Linked DNA regions of Homo sapiens. The protein of the gene in region 1 interacts with the protein of each later gene in a pairwise test. Each region holds a gene or a part of one and is shown in the gene's direction. Other genes may lie near its edges.

Region 1 (3,816 bases):
AGTTAGGGTCTGTTGCATATTTCTGGGTAGACAACCAAGACCCAGTTATTTATAAATTTTAATTAATTAATCTTAAAAACTTGGAAAGTGAAACAAAAATAAATTAGTAATGATCAAAGTTATTCAAAAAATTCCTGGTAACCAGACCTAGATAGATATGCAGTAATGGCATTCTCATACTTATTGTTGGCAATTCTTTGACTTTAAAAAAACATAGTGAAATGCAAAGTTACCACTGCTTATCTTAAGAGACCTTGATAAAAAAATTCCTAAAGTCAAACATTAGCTGTTGTGTGCTTATTCATTTTTATGAGTACTCTTTTTAAAAAATATTTTATTTCCATAGGATTTTGGGGAACAGGTGGTATTTGGTTATATGAGTAAGTTCTTTAGTGGTGATATTTTGTGAGATTCTAGTGCACCCACCACCCAAGCAGTATACACTGAACCCAATTTGTAGCCTTTTATCCCTCACCCCCTTCCCATCATTACCCCTGAGCCCCCAAAGTCCATTCCATTGTATCATTTCTATGCCTTTGCATCCTCATAGCTTAGCTCCCACTTACGTGTGAGAACATACAATATTTGGTTTTCCATTCCTGAATTACTTTCCTTAGAATAATAGTCTCCAATCGCATCCAGGTTGCTGTGAATGCCATTAATTCATTCCTTTTTATGGCTGAGTAGTATTCCATCATATATATATGTAATCCCACATTTTTCTTTATCCACTCGTAGATTGATGGGCATTTGGGCTAGTTCCGTATTATAGCAGTGAATTGCGCTGCTATAAACATGCATATGCAAGTATCTTTTTTTGACTTCTTTTCCCCTGGATAAATACCCCAGTAGTGGGATTGCTGGATCAAATGGTAGTTCTACTTTTAGTTCTTTAAGGAATCTCCACACTGTTTTCCATAGTGGCTATACTAGTTTACATTCCCACCAGCAGTGTAGAAGTGTTCCCTGTTCTCCGTACATGTCAACATCTGTTATTTTTTGAGTTTTTGATTATGGCCATTCTTGCAGGAATAAGGGGTTATTACATTGTGGTTTTGATTTACATTTCCCTGATCATTAGTGATGCTGAGTATTTTTTCATACAATTGTTGGCCATTTGTGTATCTTCTTTTGAGAATTGTCTATTCATGTCCTTATCCCACTTTTTGATGGGATTGTTTGTATTTTCTTGCTAATTTGTTTGAGTTCGTTACAGATTCTGGATATTAGTCCTTTGTCAGATGTATAGATTGTGTTTGGGTTGTCTGTTTACTCTGCTGACTGTTGTTTTTGCTGTGCAAAAGCTCTTTAGTTTAATTAAGTCCCACCTACTTATCATTGCTTTTGTTGCATTTGCTTTTGGGTTTTTGGTCATGAAGTCTTTGCCTAAGCCAATATCTAGAAGGGTTTTTCTGATATTATCTTCTAGAATTTTTATAGTTTCAGGTCTTAGATTTAAGTGCTTGATCCATCTTGCGTTGATTTTTATATAAGGTGAGAGATGAGCATCCAGTTTCATTCTCATACATGTGGCTAGCCAATTATCCCAGTACCATTTGTTGAATAGGGTGTCCTTTCCCCACTTTGTGTTTTGTTTGCTTTGTCAAAGATCAGTTGGCTGTATTTGGGTTTATTTTTGGGTTCCCTATTCTGTTCCATTGGTCTATGTGCCTATTTTTATACCAGTACCATCTTGTTTTGGTGACTATGTCCTTATAGTATCATTTGAAATCAAGTAATGTGATGCCTCCAGATTTGTTCTTTTCACTTACTTAGTTTTGCTTTGGCTATGCAGGCTCTTTTTTGGTTGCATATGAATTTTAGGATTGTTTTTTCTAGTTCTGTGAAGAACGGTGATAGTATTTTGATGGGAATTGCATTGAATATGTAGACTGTGCTCTTAAAGCATGATAAAATCTTGTATCCATTTAAGGAAATCTAGGTTCCTTGATGGACTTATAATGACAAAGATAATTCATCAGATCTCTGATTGAAGGTGGAATGGGGAGAAATGATAGAGGGATAAGTGCTGTGGGCTGAATGTTTATATCCCTCCCAAATTCACATATTGAAGTCCCATTTCCCAATGTGATGTTACTTGGAAGTGGGGCCTTTCAGAGAAAATTAAATCAAAAGAGTGGAGCCCTCATGATGGCACTCATACCCTATAAGAGGAGACATGAGAGGGATTCTGTCTTTCTGTCTCTCTCTCTCCCCCTTCACTCTGTGAGCATATAGCAAGAAGGTGAACATCTGCAAACCAGGAAAGGCTCTCACCAGGTTTGACCATGCTAACATTTATCTTTGAACTTCCCAGCCTCCAGAACTATAAGAAAGAAATGCTTGTTGTTTAAGCCACTCAGTTTGTGCTTATTTTGTTATAGCAGCATAACTACTAAGAAAATAACTTTAAGAAATTGAATCTAAAAGAGGTCAGGATTGGGGACCAGTCTGAGAACTCGATGATGAAGATATGTACAAGCGATTGGGTCAAGGCAACCTAAAATATTCATTAAAAGCACTCCTTTGAAATGAAGTAGACATTATTTATGTAACCACAAACAATAACAATAGACATAATAACAAAAATTTGCAGGAGTAATTATATGTTAGTAATTATACGTTAGTAATTAATACGTTAGTAATTAATCCCACTACAACCTCATTAGGTAAGTTTATTATCTCCAAGGAGGAACCTAATTTATTAAGAAGCTAACATGTTTCTTCTAATGTTTCAAAACTTATTTTTGTACCATTGAAATGGGAATAATTATCTTATAAGCTTTAAGAGGATTAAATGAATTAATATGTAAATAAGTCTCCCTAATACATCGTTGGGTCATATGCAACCATGATCTGCATAAAGTGTGAATCAAAAATGGAACAAGTTGTTATATTTAAGTGGATGTCGTGTGATCTATTTCATCGCATGTAAAAAGTTATGCTAACTTTAGTGTTAATAATATATAACACTTTGATTTCTTTTGAACACAGGACCCCCTGGAACAGCTGTCCCTCCACCTACTGGCTACCCAGGAGGCTTGCCTATGGGATACTACAGTCCACAGCAACCCAGTACCTTCCCTTTGTACCAGCCAGTTGGTGGTATCCATCCTGTCCGGTATCAGCCTGGCAAATATCCTATGCCAAATCAGTCTGTTCCAATAACATGGATGCCAGGGCCAACTCCTATGGCAAACTGCCCTCCTGGTCTGGAATACTTAGTTCAGGTACTCCATGAAAATACAAATTATTTTCTTATGAAATGTGACCATAGGGATCCAACAAAGAGAGAAAAAAAGCAGACCAGAGTGAATAAAGGAGATGGGTCAGTGATGACAGATGCCATTTGTGAAACTATAAGAACAGTGATACCAGTTTCAGAAATATGAAGGGGAAACAGCAAGTACAAGGATGTTTATAGTGGGATGAGTATGTTTTTCATAAGGATTTATGTTGAACTTCAAGGCATTCAAGATGTTTTCTTGAAAGAATTGTACAAATGGAAATAGAAAAACTATCATAGAGGATAGTTGTGTTATTTGCTTAGAAGTAAACAGTTAACATCAAAAAAAGCACAAAAGAGAACAAAACACAATACAGTGGGTAAATTACTGAGTGCCTTAGCCCATTGCTTTTTACCACCACCCATCATTTTCATTAGCTACTCTTGTCACCCCCAAAAACAAACAATATAAATAAAAATAATGGACCCTACAAAGAATATTGCTTCAGGCCAAGTTCCAGAGACCCCCTTCATACAACACAATAACTCCCTAATTAACATCTATGTAGATATTCTGCTGCCACCAGGAC
Region 2 (3,409 bases), on another chromosome or scaffold:
CTAAGTCAGGGGTGGAGAAGGACCCCCTGACGCCAGCCCACCTCCCCTGCCCCTCAGCAGGCCTGGCTCCAGCACAGAGAAGAGCCATTGTTGCTGCTCTGGGGGCCCTAGGAGCCTGGGATGTATCCTGCCTTTGTTTCTAGAGCCTTTGTTTGTTGTATTTCCTCTGTCTCCAGACATCGCAGGCCGGTGGGACCCGGCGCCTGTGCACGCTCACGTAGCGGGGCCTGTTCGGGTCCCTCGTGGGTCCCTTCAGTTCGAGCTCTGTCCTTGCCTCAGCGGCCCGTCACCCATAGGGTGGCAGAGATGGGCCGGGGGAGGGAGTGGGCAGCAGTGCGGACCGAGTCCTGGCGCATGGGGTTTCCCTGGTGCTGGAGCCGGGCGTTTCGGGGGTGTGGGCGGGGCTGGGGTCATATCCCCTGCATGCCCCGCATGCCATGGCTGTACTCACATGGCAAGAGGTGGTGATCGCCAGCTCAGGGAAGGTGGGGGTTCCTTCATCCTGTGGAGAGGGGGCTGAATTGGGGTCCCCTGAGCTGTAGGGTGCAGTGCCTGACAGGCCGTGGGGAGGGCCGAGGGGATGGGGACTGACAGGCCCCGGGCCCATGCCGCCCCCTGGCACGGGTGGATGCCCCGCCTCCCGGGGGTGCCCAGCTGGACTGTGGCACCCCCAAAGGACCCCACATGTCACTGTTCCCCCGCAGGGCTTCCCACGGCACGACATGGAGACCTGTGGTTGCGAGGCTCCCTGGGGCTCGGCTTGGACCGCGATGGGGCTGGGCCCTGGCCTCCTAACGGGGCTGCTGTCTGGGGCGGTAGCTGGGGGGGCGCTCTCCCCCCTGCCCGCGACTCGGAGCACCCCCACCCCTCCCCTGCCGGGCCAGGCCGGGCGGCGTTGTTGGCGGGGGCCCCGGTGGAGGCCCGGCCTGGGCGGCGCCCGCCATGAATGGGCTGTCGCTGAGTGAGCTCTGCTGCCTCTTCTGCTGCCCGCCCTGCCCCGGCCGCATCGCTGCCAAGCTCGCCTTCCTGCCGCCGGAGGCCACCTACTCCCTGGTGCCTGAGCCCGAGCCGGGGCCTGGTGGGGCCGGGGCCGCCCCCTTGGGGACCCTGAGAGCCTCCTCGGGCGCACCCGGGCGCTGGAAGCTGCACCTGACGGAGCGTGCCGACTTCCAGTACAGCCAGCGCGAGCTGGACACCATCGAGGTCTTCCCCACCAAGAGCGCCCGCGGCAACCGCGTCTCCTGCATGTATGTTCGCTGCGTGCCTGGTGCCAGGTGAGCAGCTGTGGCCGCGCCTGGGCTGGGTCACCCTGTTCTTGGGGCTCCCGTTTCTGCCTGCGGTGCTTGGTGTGGTTGGTGGTGCCCCCGAGGGCCCGAGCCTGCCGTGAAGGGCCATCCAGCCAGCAAGGGTGGTATCCCCCGTCAGGCCGGCCTCGTCCCTCTGGCAATTTTCTCTCGCAGACAAGGACACCAGGCTCAGGGAGGCCATCCCCAGCTGGCATGGGTGGGCAGGCTGGGCGACTCCAACAACCCAGCGCCTGGTGGTTGCCTGCTGGGCAAGAGCTGGGGCACAGGGGCTGCCCTGGCCTGCGGGTACATCCACCTTCTCGCCAGGTGGGGTTCTGACCAGATCTGAGTCCAGAGGGCGAGCCTTTACCTTCTGGCTGGGCTAGGTGGGGGCCTGGGGGAACTGGAGGAAGCAGTCCATGGCAGGGCCAGCCTGGCCACCTGCTCCTGGCACCACCTGGGGCAGCTCCCGTGCTGGGAAGCAGACAGGCCTTGCAGCACAGCCTTGGGGCTTGGGCAGGGTGGTGGGCCAGGAGGGGCTGCATGAGTGTGAGCAGAGATTGGCCGCATTTGCTTGTTGGGGGCAGGGGTGGGGTCCAGTTGTGCCCCAACAGTGAGGGCACCATTCTGTGAGGTGAGGGGAGATAGCCCTGCCAGCAGCAGCATGGGCTCCCCTGGGAAGGTCCTGAAAGGTGGGCCTGTGCGCTCCATCCCCGGGGGTCCAGGTTCTTCCAGGAGGAAGGGCAGTGAAGCCTGCAGTATCTGAGCACACACTGCGAGTCTGCCCTGAGAGAGGATGCGACCGATGGTCCCAGTGTCCCGCTTCACAGATGGGAATCCTGAGGCTCCCTGGCTGGCCTCTGCAGCCCAGGCTGCCTGTCCCCCTGCCAGCTGTCCTGTCCTCTCCCCATGGGGAACCCTCGGAGATGGAGCTGTGCTGTCGTAGCCTCCCCTCTCCATTCACTGGCTTCTGGCCCCCTTGGGAGGGGAGTAAATGAGGCACTGGGCATGGCTGGCCACCGGGGTGGGCTGTCACTACGCATCCTCCTGCCCTGCAGCTGGGCGCTGGGAGCGAGGATGTGAACGGCCCTTCTCGGCCTGTCCCAGGTACACGGTCCTCTTCTCGCACGGCAATGCCGTGGACCTGGGCCAGATGAGCAGCTTCTACATTGGCCTGGGCTCCCGCCTCCACTGCAACATCTTCTCCTACGACTACTCCGGCTACGGTGCCAGCTCGGGCAGGCCTTCCGAGAGGAACCTCTATGCCGACATCGACGCCGCCTGGCAGGCCCTGCGCACCAGGTGAGGGCGACCCTGGGGGCAGCTCAGCCTGGGCACACCCAAGAGGGGACCAGGCGGGGGGCCGGGGGGCGGGCTTCCCTGGGAGGAAGGTGGGCGGCCCTGCAGGAGGGGAGCCACAGTGGATGCACAGGGCCAGAGAGCCGGACAGGCGAGCTTGGGTGTGCAGGTGCCGCCTCCACATGGCTGAGGTGTGGCCAGGCGGTCCTCCCACACCCTGGCCTGTGGAGCCAGGTTCCCTGGGAACCCCTGGCCTGAGGATGGGAAGGGGCTGAGCTTGTCACAGGGGTGTGGATGCCACCCGGCGGGAGGGAGTGGGTGGTGGTCTGGGGGTCTGTGCACGTGTGGCTGGGAGCCCATCGGCCGAGGCAGCACTTGGGGCCAAGTGAGGCGAGGCTGCTGCATCCAGGTCCGGAGGACTGGCCCATGAGGCCCTGTGGCTGCGGAGCTTGGCCATCCTGGGGCAGGGCCTACAGGGTAAGGTGCAGACCCGCAGCACACATCCGAGGTCTGGGCCAGCCTCGATTCCAGATCCAGCCCTCCTAGTCATCCACGTCCCCAGCCCTGCGCTTGCCTGGGCCCTTCACCGGTGTTTGAGCACCGCCCGGGCCAGTGCTGCTTTGGACGAGGAGACCCGGGTGGGCCTCTGGTGGCTTTTCCTGCTCACCATCCACTGGGCCTGTCTCGTCCTGGCCCTGCCCAGCCCACTGGTCTGACCTGCTCCCACAGGGACCAGGCACAGCTCTGAGAAGTCAGAGGCCCTAGGGAGGTGGGGTCGTCGTTGCCTTGGTGATATGCAGGCAGTCCCTGCAGTGGGCCTGGGA

What was found.
Region 2: the proteins of PLSCR4 (region 1) and ABHD17A interact in a two-hybrid assay, tested with the Homo sapiens proteins (one large-scale study listed by BioGRID).

The regions. Positions count from the first base shown.
Region 1 is NC_000003.12:146,205,940-146,209,755, reverse strand, and holds part of PLSCR4 (phospholipid scramblase 4), read left to right. Parts: intron 1-2,994; coding exon 2,995-3,230; intron 3,231-3,816. UniProt on the Homo sapiens protein: Catalyzes metal ion-induced ATP-independent rapid bidirectional and non-specific movement of phospholipids (lipid scrambling or lipid flip-flop) between the inner and outer leaflet of the plasma membrane and participates in the redistribution of phospholipids between membrane leaflets.
Region 2 is NC_000019.10:1,879,100-1,882,508, reverse strand, and holds part of ABHD17A (alpha/beta hydrolase domain-containing protein 17A), read left to right. Parts: exon of another isoform or gene 1-704; 5' UTR 705-942; coding exon 943-1,274; intron 1,275-1,460; coding exon of another isoform or gene 1,461-1,613; intron 1,614-2,393; coding exon 2,394-2,588; intron 2,589-2,650; exon of another isoform or gene 2,651-3,409. UniProt on the Homo sapiens protein: Hydrolyzes fatty acids from S-acylated cysteine residues in proteins. Has depalmitoylating activity towards NRAS. Has depalmitoylating activity towards DLG4/PSD95. May have depalmitoylating activity towards MAP6.